4 linked regions of the Homo sapiens genome follow. The protein of the gene in region 4 purifies or fractionates together with the protein of the main gene of each other region. This does not show direct contact. Each region holds a gene or a part of one and is shown on either strand. Other genes may lie near its edges.

What was found.
Region 1: the proteins of EPN2 (region 4) and SMARCA1 purify together in Homo sapiens (affinity purification with mass spectrometry; one large-scale study listed by BioGRID and IntAct). This does not show direct contact.
Region 2: the proteins of EPN2 (region 4) and RNF214 fractionate together in Homo sapiens (co-fractionation; one large-scale study listed by BioGRID). This does not show direct contact.
Region 3: the proteins of EPN2 (region 4) and MB21D2 fractionate together in Homo sapiens (co-fractionation; one large-scale study listed by BioGRID). This does not show direct contact.

The regions. Positions count from the first base shown.
Region 1 is NC_000023.11:129,488,832-129,492,576, forward strand, and holds part of SMARCA1 (SWI/SNF-related matrix-associated actin-dependent regulator of chromatin subfamily A member 1), read right to left. Parts: intron 3,263-3,745; coding exon 3,110-3,262; intron 1,362-3,109; coding exon 1,229-1,361; intron 255-1,228; coding exon 106-254; intron 1-105.
Region 2 is NC_000011.10:117,246,150-117,249,894, forward strand, and holds part of RNF214 (RING finger protein 214), read left to right. Parts: intron 1-659; coding exon 660-799; intron 800-3,745.
Region 3 is NC_000003.12:192,911,264-192,915,008, reverse strand, and holds part of MB21D2 (nucleotidyltransferase MB21D2), read left to right. Parts: intron 1-3,745. UniProt on the Homo sapiens protein: Probable nucleotidyltransferase that catalyzes the formation of cyclic dinucleotide second messenger in response to some unknown stimulus.
Region 4 is NC_000017.11:19,331,246-19,334,415, forward strand, and holds part of EPN2 (epsin-2), read left to right. Parts: intron 1-607; coding exon 608-823; intron 824-2,710; coding exon 2,711-3,009; 3' UTR 3,010-3,170. UniProt on the Homo sapiens protein: Plays a role in the formation of clathrin-coated invaginations and endocytosis.

The sequences.
Region 1 (3,745 bases), on a different chromosome or scaffold from region 4:
CATGTAGATAATGCAGATAAACATGTACAATGAAAATATAAGTATGCTGAAGTATGTTGATATTAAAACAATCCAGCATGAAAATAAAATGCTATTTTAACTAACCTTCTTTTCCCCTCTTTCCAGAATAGTTGTAATGTCTTCATCTGTCAACTCACTCTCTTTAGAAGCAAAAACATGGGTGGCTCCATGCCGTATCATTTGTAACATTTCCTCTTTTGCCAGCTTGTTAGACTGTTGGTCAATGAGTCTTCCTAATGATAAAAATTGAAATTGTACATATTCAATCAATCATATTCCAAAGAAGGCATAATCATTCTAATCAGACATTATCACATTTAACCACACATAAAGCTTTAAAGAACAAAAAATTAGTGAGCATTAAGGTTATTTGTTTAATAAACCCTACAAGTTTTTCTTCTAGCATACTTTCTATTTCTATATAAATTCCCTTCTGTAAAACTCAGTTAAAACCCAGAAGGACAGAAACTTTTTTTCATGTTCAAACTCTGTTTTCAGATCAAACTTCTCTATATGAAAAGGTACCCTCTAATATGTTTTCAAAAATTTAAAAGTAGCCATTTTATCTGCTAAATAATCTCAGGTACTTCAAAAAGCATGCTACTGACATTCAAGAATAAGCTAGTGATGTTCAACTACTCCATATATCAAATGCCAGGGTTTCAATTCAGAAGATTTCAATTAGCATTTTTTGTTCGTTTGTTTGTTTGTTTGTTTGTTTTTGAGACAGTGTCTTGCTCTGTCGCCCAAGGCGGAGTGCAGTGGCGCGATCTCGGCTCACTGCAACCTCCACCTCCCAGGTTCAAGCAATTCTCCTGCCTCAGCCTCCTGAGTAGCTGGGACTACTGGTGCACGCCACCACACCCGGCTAATTTTTTGTATTTTTAGTAGAGACAGGGATTCACCATGTTGGCCAGGCTGGTCTCAAACTCCTGATCTCAGGTGATCCACCCGCCTCGGCCTCCCAAAGTGCTGGGATTACAGGCATGACCTACCTCACCCAGCCTCAATTAGCATTTTTAAATTTTTTCCTTTTATTTTTAGGTGATACATAACAATTGTACAGACTCATGGGATACACAGTGATGTTTCAATTTTTCCTCTAAGTTTTCAAATTTTGGTCAACTTTTATTAAAAGTAATCTCCTTTGAAGAAAACTACATGTGTTTTACAAAAAACACCTAATTAAGTTTCTATGTATAAATACCTTGTTGTATAACAATTGAATCGAGTCTCAGTTTTATCTCAGCTCTTTCTACAATCCTCTCTTCAACAGTGTTGTCAGTGATGAGACGGAATACACGTACTGGTTTCTTCTGACCAATACGATGTGCTCGATCCTAGTAGAAAGAGTTCTAATGTAAGATATTGGATATTCTGGATAAAATTTAGAGCCATCATATGCTATAAAATTCTAAAAATAAAATTAGTTATTTTTCTCTAGATCTGACACTTTGGAAAAGAGCATGATGAATATTGAGAATATCTAAAGACCACTGGGAACAAAGAAATCTGCAAATATTATATTGTACCATTAATGGGAAACTTCCAGGACAAAGGGCAAAGCACCTGTAAGATGAATAAAAGAGGGAGCTGAAAGTTTCTGGATTGAGTTACTAAGTAACTTTAAGCCACTAAATATAAACATCTTCGAAACTAGCAAGGAATTTTATTAAGTAGTTAGGGTTGCTATGGTGGCAAAAGTCTGCTTTATTTCATCATCAGGCACTTCTTTCTGCTTACTGAGGGATATGCAGTAAAGAGTTATAAAAATTAATGGGATATTACTATCCTTACTATTCAGTAGCCTAGGACTGGTCCTATGGTTTATAGTTGGTACAGGTGACAGGTGGCGAACTTCTAGTGGTATAAAACCATCTAGGGAGAGTATTTTTAAAACACAGAAGCTGCTAGAGCAAATAGGTAAAGGGAGGAGGGTGGTAGAGAAAAAAAAAATGTAAGTTCAAAACAGGCCTTGTACTAAATATAAAAACACTAGAGCCTAGTAACAAAGTTTCAACACAGCACATTTTTCAAACAGAATGCAATCCCCTGCACATATTTACATTAAACCTGAACCAGCAAATCCTGAAAGATGGGATGCACACTAAGACTTCTACGGAAATGAAGTGCTATCACTATTAGATTTTCCAGTTCAGTAACACTGTAACTTACTGGGGCTTACTCCTAGTTAGTCATATCAAACAGGTAGTTCAATACCATCGTAATGCAATAATAATTACGCCAAAGCATATTGATTTTGGAATGTCCCAGTGGTCAATCCCTTTCAATTCTCTATTATAAAAGGAAAGCCTTCTAAGTTATACCTCATTGGCATATGACTTTTCATTGCTCCCAAAAAGACACTTATCCATAGCTATATATTCAAAACCTAAGAAGTTATTTTGCATCTTTTTACTTCTAAATTATATTTCTTTATCTGAAAATGTGAGTCACATTGAGAGAAGTTGTAGCTCTAGTTCAATAAATGACACCAAAATATCAAAGGGGTTACCTGTAGTGTCATGATGAAAGGTCAGAGAAACTTTGCTCCCTAAAAAAAAATGTTTTTAAGTGTAGAATAGCTTTTGCATGGTATCATTATTAAGTAGCAAGTGTTTTTCTGGAATATATTCCTTTCTTACCTTTTTGCCTTCTCTCCCAAATTGTTTTTTATGAAAGTTAAAATCCTACCTCTCTTAATTTCAGTACTAAGGATTTTAATATATTTAGTTGTTGAACAGAATAATAACAAGAGATTGTTTTTTAATCCTTTTCATTAAAACAAATTTATGTGTCCTCTTCAATCTGTAGGAATGGGAAAAAACTGACATTTCTATTTCATGAAAAAAACCAAAATCAACACATAAATGCTATAAGTTGGATCTGGGGTGTGTTTGTTGTTCGCTTTCATTTCTTTTGTTTTTGCAATTAGCATAGCAACTGTGTTTTCCAGGATAATCTACTGTAACTTCTATAAAATCTCTCAAAAATTGTTACCTTTTTATCATAAATGACCTTTATGTGTGTAAATAGCAATAGTATTCAGAGCTATGATAAATTTCTGACACCATTAAAGATTACTAACCATAGCTTGTAGATCAACCTGTGGGTTCCAGTCTGAATCATATAGTATAACCACATCAGCACTTGCCAGGTTAATTCCGAGACCTCCAGCCCTGGTACTTAGCATAAAGATGAATTTGCTACTATTAGGAGCATTAAAAGCCTCTATTGCTTCCTTTATTTTTTATTGATAAAGGGATAGAAGAAAAAGAGAAAAATAAAATTAGACCATCAGGGTCCTTAAGAAACAAATAAAAACATTTAAAATACATATAGAAAATCTTCACACACTTTATAATATTCCTTATAAATATACTTTATAATATTCTTCCATCTTCAAAAATATGTAAGCATCTATACATATACTGTACTGTGTGAATTTCTGTAGAAAGTATATTATATAAATGAAGTTCCTAATCTTTAAAAGCTTACATCGATAGATACAAATTTAGAACAATTACATACACAAATTTAACTAAGCAAGTAATAATTCATTTACATTATTTAAAAACAATAATAATGAAAACGTTTTGAGTGAGAGCTGAAATATATCTAGGAGGTAAAATATCAGAAATCTCAACTTCATTTCCATTAGCTTATGAATGATTAGTTTAGAAGATCAACCAACAGAGAAAATGGTTTACAAATGGGAATGAGG
Region 2 (3,745 bases), on a different chromosome or scaffold from region 4:
AGACAAGATCTCTGTATGTTGCCTAGGCTGGACTCGAACTCCCGGACACAGTGATCCTCCTGCCTTGGGTTCCCAAAGTACAAGGATTATAGGCATGAGCTACTGTGCCTGGCCTGTTTGACTTCTTATTTAAAAAAAAAAAAAAGTGTGCGTTTGTACATATGTATATCTGTGTGTATATGTGTGTGTGTATATATGTATGTATTTGTTGTTGTTAAAGAGTAAAACAAACAAAACCCATACATAATAAAGTAGAATCACAACAAAATGAAACAAGACAATATTTGTTGGATGTAACAGACCCTCCCTGGTACAAGAACACCTTTCTCAGCATTCTTGACAGGTGTTCATTCAGCCTTTATTTGAACACCAGTAATGAAGAGCTTACTGCTTCACAAGGCAGTATATTTCATTTTTGAACAATTGCGATTGCTAGAAATTATTTTTCCTGTTGAGTTGAAATCTGCATTACTATAACTTTCTCCTTTAGGTCTGAATACTGGCTTTTGGAGCTACTCATCAACCACATTCTTTCAATTCAATTTGAATTCACTAAAGTCAATACGTGAATTTGTGATAGTTGAAAATAACCTTTGCATCAAAAGAACTAACTTATTTTCTTTTTTATTTGTGTGCGACTGTAATTGTGTGGAACTCAGGAGATATTAAAGGCTATTCAGGATGTGACAATAAAGCGGGAAGAAACAAAGAAGAAGATAGAGAAAGAGAAGAAGGAGTTTTTGCAGAAGGAGCAGGATCTGAAAGCTGAAATTGAGAAGCTTTGTGAGAAGGGCAGAAGGTAACTGATGTTAAGAATAAAAACCCTGTGTGTATGTATATATGCATGAGGGGCCAGACCCGTTTGTATTTGTAGTTTCTTTCCCTTCGGTTTAATTTTTATTTGAAAAACAAGTGTACAAGTAAAAACTCTCCAATGACTTTAGCTTTTTCAGTATCAAACATTAGACTTAATAGAAAAAAGTTCAGAGATTTATTAAATACTTTGAAATAATAACAGTTAATTGTTGAGTCCCAAGTGTGGTCAAGAGTTCGATACGGGCTGGACGTAGCGGCTCACACCTATAATCCCAGCGCTTTGGGACACCAAGGTGGGAAGATTGCTTGAGGCCAGGAGTTTGAGACCAGCCTGAGCAACCTAGCAAGACCCCCTCTCTACAAAAAATATTAAAAAAAAATTAGCTGGTTGTGGTGGCACGTGGCTGTAGTCCTAGCTACTTGGGAGGCTGAGGTGGAAGAATCACTTGAGCCCAGGAGTTCCAGGCTGCAGTCAGCTGTGATTACGCCACTGCACTCCAGCTTGGGTGACAGAGCAAGACCTTGTCTCTTAAAAAAAAATTTTTTTTATATGAATCTAACACCGATCTCACTTTATAACCTGATATTTACAAGTTCAGACCATGGGACAGGCACAGTGGCTCACGCCTGTAATCCCAGCACCTTGGGAGGCCGAGGCAGGTGGATCACGAGGTCAGGAGATCGAGACCATCCTGGCCAATATGGTGAAACCCCATCTCTACTAAAATACACAAAATTAGCCAGGCGTGGCGGCGTGCACCTGTAGTCTCAGCTACTCGGGAAGCTGAGGCAGGGGAATCGCTTGAATCCAGGAGGCAGGAGGCGGAGGTTGCAGTGAGCTGAGATCGTGCCACTGGACTTCAGCCTGGCAACAGAGTGAGACCCTGTCTCAAAAAAAAAAAAAAACAAAACAAAAAAAAACAAAGTTCAGACCATGAGCATATTTTGAATGATTACATTTGTGTTATTCAGCATCCAAAGTAAATTTCAAACAGTAACATTGTAAGCTGTTTGTGAAAGAATTATTTAGAGGATTTGTGTCCTTTTCTGGGTACTGCAGAAAAAGCAAAGTGGGCATAGAATTTGGTCAGCTTCTCAATTTTCTAAGTTTCTTTTTTTTCTTTTTTTGAGACGGAGTCTTGCTCTGTTCCCCAGGCTGGAGTGCAGTGGCACGATCTCAGCTCACTGCAAGCTCCACCTCCCGGGTTCACGCCATTCTCCTGCCTCAGCCTCCTGAGTAGCTGGGACTACAGGCGCCCGCCACCATGCCTGGCTAACATTTTTGTATTTTTAGGAGAGACGGGGTTTCACCGTGTTAGCCAGGATGGTCTCGATCTCCTGACCTCATGATCCGCCTGCCTCGGCCTCCCAAAGTGCTGGGATTACAGGCATGAGCCACCGCGCCCAGCCAATTTTCTAAGTTTCTTAAAATGACCTGTTTGGAAATCATAATAGCTGTGAATACTCGGTTGATTTTATTTAAATTCTACCAAAATGTTTTTTGTTTATCAAAAAAATTTTGGCTTTTGCTAATGCGTCAGACTGCTGAGTTAGCAAGCTCATGTGCTGAATCATTTTCTGAGTCTCCAAGATAATAATTGTGAAGCTCAACATGAGGAATTGTGTTTGAGAGAGGGCTTGTAGACCAATCAGTTGTTCTGTTGAGAATCTAGTGATACTGAATGATTAGAAGGTGGGTCAGTTGTCTATAATGATAATTTTCCAGAAATTATGAGGAGTGTACCTGGAATAGAACATTATCCCAGCCACTGTTAGTGATCAAAGCAGTTGCTCCCACCCCATGACATGGTCTCTGCCATTGTCTTCACAATCTGTGTGAGGAAGATGACCATAGGCATGTAGCAACTTAACAGGAGATATTAAAGTGCAGAAACTGGGAAGATGAGTCTATAATGTTATTCTAAGCCCCGCAGAAAATTTCCTTTTGATGTGTGTTCTTTACATTCTTTTTTTTTTTGAGACAGTCTTGCTCTGTTGCCCAGGCTGGAGTGCAGTGGCGCAATCTCGGCTCATGCAAGCTCCACCTCCCGGGTTCAAGTGATTCTTTTGCCTCAGTCACCTGAGTATCTGGGATTACAGGCGAGTGCCATCATGCCCAGATAATTTTTTAAATTTTTTTATAGAGATGAGAATCTCACTCGTTGACCAGGCTAATCTCAAACTTCTGGCTTCAAGCGATCCACCTGCCTTGGCCTCCCAAAGTGCTGGGATTACAGGTGTGAGCTACCGTGCCCAGCCTTTTTTTAATTTTTAATTTTTATTGTTTTTTACCTTCAACAAACTCACTTTTACTCTTTACATTCTTTATGTAACTCTACTACCTTTTCCATCTGATTGAATTGCTACAGATGGTGATTGATACTAATAATTTTGGTGTTTGTGTTCTTGAAGATCCATTTTTTTTCTTTAAATGTATATGTCACGGTGTGAGAATAATGTTTTCTGCCATTCTTTCTGTTAAATGTGGGGTTCAGTTTTCCGGAAGCAGGGGGAATGTCTCTTGTAGGTATCTTTGTTCTAGCAGTGGTGTAGGTTCTGCTTAGCATTCCATCATTCATAGGAACCGGGACACATAGATTTTGGTCATTATATTATTCACCTTGGCCTGCCATAACAGAATACCACTGACTACGTGGCTTAAACAGCAGAATATTTTACAGTTCTTGGAGGCTGGAAATCCGACATAAAGATGCTGGCAGGTTTGGTTTCTGGTGAGAATCTTTTCCTGGTTTGCCGACAGCTGCCTTCTTCTGGTCTCACATGGCTTTTGTGCTATGCATGCACATTCCTGGTGTCTCTTCCTCTTATAAGGACACCAATTCTATTGGATTAGGTTCCCACTTTATGACTTCATTTAACCATAATTGCCTCCTTCAAGGCCCTGTATCCAAATACAATTACACTGGGG
Region 3 (3,745 bases), on a different chromosome or scaffold from region 4:
CAGGGGTGAGGCATGTTACTCTCTTTTTGTGTAAGATTGTTAGCCAAGTCTGAAGCCCCTCCAGCTTCACAGATCCTTTTCATTTTGTCTAGTTTGGAGGAATTTTACACTGAAGAGCAAGGAGGTGGTAGACAGCTGTCATAATCAATGACCTGTCAACACCAAGACACTCCACTGTCTTATCAAAGTAGGGTTCTGCACAGGCTGTGGGGTTGATCTGAGCTTGCTGGTGGTCACTGTGGTCTCTGGGGTCTGTCCTGATGCTCTCTGTTTGTACAGAGATTCTGATTTTTTTTTGGAGGCAGGTGTTAGCTGCAATTGTCTAGATTCACTTCTTATTCCTCTGTACCTTGGTCTTTTAGGAGAATGATTGGTGTTATTATCTAGTTAATATTTGAGAGCCCAGACTGTGCGAAAGGCTGGCAGTGCATAATAAACACCATTTATCAAAATTCAGGGAAATTGCCAGAGTTCATTAATGTTTTAATAATATTTGGTATTAGCATAATGTCTCTGCCAGCTCTTTTGTTATCTTCATTCCCTGGTGAGGTTCGATAGAGACTGGTTTGTGTCCCCATTGAACAGATGCAGAAAAGGGGGTATGCAGATGCTGGAGAAGGCAGGAAAGAAACAAGCCGTCACCTAACCTACAGACCAAGTGGTCGGTACCATGGCATGATTTTTACGGTAGTTAATCATTTACTAATCATCTTCTCAGGGCCAGGAACTTCACATAGACTTTTGAGGAGGTATTGCTTTCCCATTACATAGATGAAGATATTGAAATTTAGTGGGGTGAAGAAAGTGGATATCCAGGGTCACAAAGCTAATAGATGGTAGAGATGCTACTGAAACTCAGGTCAGCCTTACTCTAAAACATGTTCCTCTTCTCCTACTTGAGACTATTAAGAATAGATGCATAAAATCCAGAGGAAAGGCTTTGTTTTAAAAAATCACTTCTTTCAGGATTTTGTTTCGATTTTAGCTATAAGTTTTAGCGTAATATAAGTAGATTTCTGGAACAGTCTGAGTTCAAGTATTCTATAATAAGATCTCCTATTTGAATTTTTGATTGAGAAAATCATAGTAATTATAATAAAATGTTAAAATCTATAGTTTCATTCCCAGTCTGCCTCTTGTTGGCTTTGTGGTCTTAGTATTTTCTCTCTCTTTTTTTGAGACAGGATCTTGCTCCGTTGCCCAGCCTGGAGTGCAATAGTATGATCATGGCTCACCGCAGCCTCAAAGTCCTAGGCGTAAGCTATCTTCCTGTCTCAGCCTCCCTAGTGGCTAGGACTAGAGATGTGTACCACCGTGCCCAGCTAATTTTTTATTTTTTAAAATTTTTGTGTAGATGGAGTCTCACTATGTTGCCCAGGCTGGTCTCAAAATCCTGGCCTCAAGTGATCCTTCTGGCTTGGCCTCCCAAAGTGCTGGTATTACAGGCATGAGCCACCATGCCTGGCCAGTTTTTTCATTTATTAAACATGGATAACAGTAAGCATTGTTTTTCAGAACTGTTATGTCAGAATGTGAAATTACTTTGCTAACTAAAAAAGAATATATACGTGAGTTTATTATTTAAATAAATGTTTGTTTATTTATTTATTTGAGACAGGGTCTCGCTCTGTCACCTAGGCTAGAGTGCAGTGGTACAGTCTCAGCTCACTGCAACCTCTACTTCCTGGGCTCCAAGTGATCCTCCCACCCCAGCCTCCCAAGTAGCTAGGAGTGCAGGCGTGTAACACCACGCCTGGCTAGTTTTTTGTATTTTTGGTAGAGACAGGGTTTCGCCATGTTGCCCAGGCTGGTCTCACACCCCTGAGTTCAAGCAATCCTCCTGCTTTGACCTCCCAGAGTGCTGGGATAAAAATATACTTTCTTAGAAGATCCAGTGAACTTAAATTGGAATTATTTCTGCAGCTTGACATCTGAAAGAACTATGCAGTACAATTAGGGTAGCCCAGGAGGATTTTGGCTCATACCATGTGCTGACCATTGTGCTAGCTACTTTGCCTAAGTCCATTAGCTCATGTAATCTTTTTTCCACAACTTTGTAAGCATAAGTATCATGCCTATTTTGGAAGTGAAATAGGTGTTGTTACCCTTTTTAAAGATGAAATGGTGAGGCTCAAAGAAAGAAGTCAAGAACTTAGGCCAAGATCATTCAGAGTTGGAGACTGAATCCAGTTATTCCTGACTCAGAAGCTCATGTTCCTTTTACTGTAGTAGCAATCAGTTTCCATCACTTTTGGGTGAGACATACTATACTCAGTAGCCTGCCTAGTCTGTAGGAGCAAAGATAATTTCTTTTTTTCTTTTTTCTTTTTTTTTTGAGATACAGTTTTGCCCTTGTTGCCCAGGCTGGAGTGCAGTGGCATGATCTTGGCTCACTGCAACCTCTGCCTCCTGGGTTCAAGTGATTCTCCTGCCTCAGCCTCCCGAGTAGCTGGGATTACAGGCGCCCGCTACCACACCTGGCCAATTTTTGTATTTTTAGTAGAGATGGGGTTTCACCATGTTGTTGGCCAAGGCTGGTCTAGAACTCCTGACCTCAGGTGATCCACCCACCTCGGCCTCCCAAAGTGCTGGGATTACAGGCGTAAGCCACCATGCCCCGCCTGAGATAATTTCTTTTTGTCTTCCTGTCTCTGTCCCTCTTTCTCTCCCTCTGTTTTTTTCACGCATTTGACAAATACTTAATGAATGTAATAGTGTTTGCCAATCAGCGTGCAGGGTTCTGAAGATAAAATGGTGAACAAAAACTTTGAGAAATTCATAAGGGCCTTCAGGGACCCCTCCCCTGTTTCCTTTGCCCACCAACTCTAGCAGGATATTTTGCTGGCTGTTTCTCCTTTCAGGCCAATAAGTGCCATGTGGCCATTTCAAAGATGTAAATGCTTGGTGTGGTGCTCCTGGACCTACCATATTTTTAGGCACTTTCTACATCTCCAGAGTGGGTAATTTTGAAGCCCTACCTTTCCAGTGTTTGATTGCTACTTTTCTGTTAATGAATTCCCCCAGCAGGATTTACCATGGAAATTTATGGTGCGTTGGTGTTTTATGGGCCTCCATGTGCTTGGAAAGTTCCCGAGAGTTGTATTCACTATGTGCTGCATCTGTAGAGTGCACAGGATCATCTCGGAAGTTTGTTCTATCTCTGAGAACATTATGTATCCAGGGCAGGGGATCTCTCCAAACATTCATTTTTGTGCTAGTTTGGATTGGTTTCAATTCCCCCTCCATGGTTCTGGGCAGTGGCTGCCCTTCGTCCTTGAGAGAAGAGGCCTAGAACTGTCGACAGTCCTGGGTCTTCCTGTCATTCCTTGTCATGCCACTCATTGGATAATACATTGCTCACAGTTAGGCTGAGCCCCTTTTTAATTCACAGAAATATTAGATTCTAACAATTCAAAATCTCTGGTCCCATTCAGACCTATTGAATCCGAATTCCCTAGAGATCCCCCAACAAGCTGCTCAGCATGTCAACATCCTGTCCTGTGTTAGGCTTGATGTTCTGCATTCTCTGTTCTAGGCACAGTGAGCATGATCCCAGTTGACTTTTGAGACTAGAACCAAGCTGCTGAGCCTAATGAGCAGATAATGTCTGTCTGCTCCTGGAAAGTAATAGTGGAGTTCTTCCACCTGGGACAGAGACAAAAAGGCATAGTGAGTGAGACAAGGGTGTTTACTATGTCACAGGTTTTAATAGGACTTTACTGTATCATTTAATCATCACCATTAC
Region 4 (3,170 bases):
GAAACTCTTTGTGCTTATAACCTTGTTCACATTTTACATTATTTGCTTAGACCAGATTCCTAGAAATGGGGTTACTAAGTGAGAGAATGACTGTTGTTAAGAATTCCTGTACCGTGAAGCATCCCGTCGTGGCAATCACATTCCTACCGGCCTGGCTCAGCACAGCCTGTGTTGCCTCTATGGGCTGAATTTTAAAAGACACAATTTGCTTTCTTTTTACTATCAAGAAGTTCATGTTTATTGTGGAAAATTTAGTAAATGGAAAATGTAAGAAAAAAAAAAAAAAGTAAATTGCCCATGCCTAGCTTCCAACCCAAAATGACATCTTGGTATTCTGGAGGAATGAGCTATACACACTCTTTTATAACCTGCTTTAGTATTTTGATAAAGCTTTCTTTGCTTATCATTAGGTATTCTTCTGTTCCTGCATGCTGGTGTTTCGTTATGTGGACACTTGATTTATCTAACCCAGCCCATGACTGGCTGTGTGTCGTCACGTGGCGCTGTCAGGCAGGCATGTCCCCAGGAGGCCATGTTTTGTGTTAAGTACACAGTCTTAGGCTCTCCCTGCCACACTCACCCTGCCATATGTGTCCTTGTCTTGTAGCCGAATCTGTGACCTCTCTGCCATCCCAAAACAATGGAACTACCAGCCCTGACCCCTTTGAGTCTCAACCCCTGACTGTCGCCTCAAGCAAGCCCAGCAGTGCCCGGAAAACACCTGAGTCCTTCCTGGGCCCCAACGCGGCCCTGGTGAACCTGGACTCACTGGTGACCAGGCCTGCCCCACCAGCCCAGTCCCTCAACCCTTTCCTGGCACCAGGTAGGCTCTCATCCCAGGCTTCATCCATTGCCTGCTGTGCCTGGGAATGGGTGTGCAGCAGGCCTCTTGGGGGCTCTTCCCACTGTGTGACGGGGAAGGGGTGGGACTAGCTGGAATCTCTAGATGATTACGTATGCCCTCGCCAGTGCTGCATGGGGTGGGGTGTGGAAGCCGTTGTCAGTTATGTGGGGAGTGTATGGGTAGGAAATAGCTCCTCTCCTCTCAGTTGAGACTACCAAGCAGAAACTGTCCCTGACTTGGTGCCCCCCCAGTTGTGAGACCCTCGAGGGAATGTCAGTTCTAAGACAGGTGGAGTAGGGTGGGCTGCTGGGGGTGAGGAAGAGCCAGGGTTTGGCGTGTAGCATTCCTCTCTCGGGAAAAATGTAACTTAGCCCTTGGGTACAAGCCTTCCTCCAGGTCCCTTGCTTCCACTCCTGGTGCCAGAGTCTGCCCCCTGCCCTCAGGGCTCAATGTTGGCTGCCGGCCAAGCCCCCAGCTGTTCAATTGGGTATCCAGGGCCATTATGGCCTGGTCCCACCCTCCTCTTCCCTTCCTGTGTGCATGAAACCCTTGTGACATCCAGCCCCTTGGCGCCCCTCAGCCTGTAGAGCCCTTCCTTAAGCCCAGGCTGTTACACACTCAGTTTCCCCTGCCTGGAATGTCCTCCCTCCTCTTCCCTAATGAAAGCATCTTCCTCATCCTTTGACACCTAGCTCAGATGACTCCCTTCTAGGAAGTCCACCCAGCCCCCTTCCTCACGGGGTTTCCCCAAAGCCTTGGGCTTCCCCCAGGGCAGGAATGTGTCACCCTCAGGTGTTCAGCCCCAGGCTGGCCCCACCATGTAGGGATCTGAGGATCTTGGGCCACCGTCCCTGACAGTACCTTGCAGAGGAGAATTACCACTGAACTTACAGAGGCTGAGGTTGGGGACCCTTGGGCAGAGGTGAGGTGTGTGGAGTTACTGGGTCCTGGCCAACCCTGAGGTCCTGAGATGGGTGAGGACATGGCTGCCCCCAGGGGAGGTGGTTCCCTGGGTGGAACTAGATTAGTTTCCAGCCTCCTCAGCCAGCCAGGAGTCTGTGTCTGCCCCAGGAGGCCTTATGCCTCTTCTGCCCAGAGAGCCCTTGAAGGCCCTGCAGGAGCTCCAGTGGTCATCTGTGTCTGTCAGCTCTTGGTGGGCACCTGGCTGGAGGCCTGAGGCAGCTTTGTTGGCTGCACACCAGTCATGGTTCCTGGGGGCTGCAGCCAAGATGGAGGAGGTTTGGGCAACTCTGCTGGACATACAGGGCCATTCTCCAGGCCACACAGGGTAGGGCCAGGCTGCATGGGAGAGTTGGTGCCAGCAGCGCACACACTTTTGCAAAGAAAAGGCTTTCTGGTATGAGGTAAATTCTGGAGACACTGGGAAAGACAAAGCTGCATCAACTTCTTGACTGCAGGATTTCTAGCCTTCGCGGTGTCATATGTGGATCCCTGGGTGCATTGTGGGCACTGCCACATGAGCCACACACTGCCAGTCCCATGTCCCTTTCAGCAAACAAAATGAGGGAGCAGTGGTAGCTGATGGCTGGTGAAGGTGTCCTGGGTGCCAGCACTGCAGAGGAGCCAGGGTGCCCCGAGATGGGTGTGTTCCTGGCATGGCCTTGTTCAGCTTTGTGACGCTGGACAAATCACTTGGCTTCTCACAGCCTCAATCTCCTCATCCTTAAAGTGCAGATTCATGCAGTCAGCAGATATTTGCTAGTGTCTGCCATGGACTCGGCCGGCACTGTCACGGGCTCTGAGGGCACAGCAGGGACCAGAACACCCGCATGCAGTCCCTGACCTGGGAGCTCAGAAAGCCACACCCTGACGGCTCAGCCTCTGCCCCTCCTTCTGTCTCCCCAGGTGCTCCCGCCACCTCGGCCCCTGTTAACCCTTTCCAGGTGAACCAGCCCCAGCCGCTGACACTGAACCAGCTTCGGGGGAGCCCAGTCCTGGGGACCAGCACATCCTTTGGGCCTGGCCCAGGAGTGGAGTCCATGGCTGTGGCCTCGATGACCTCCGCGGCCCCACAGCCAGCTCTGGGGGCCACTGGTTCCTCTCTGACACCACTGGGCCCTGCAATGATGAACATGGTGGGCAGTGTGGGTATACCCCCATCAGCAGCCCAGGCCACTGGCACAACCAACCCTTTCCTTCTCTAGTGCCTGGGCCTGGGACCCACCCAGAGCACCTGTGCTGGAGGATGCCGAGCAGGGACTCTCGTCTGTGGGACGGGATCCAAGAGTTTGGGGATTAGGGGTATTAGGGCTTTTCAGCTCCAGCTTCCTGATGAAAGGGCTGTCTTTACAGCCCCAACCCTCAG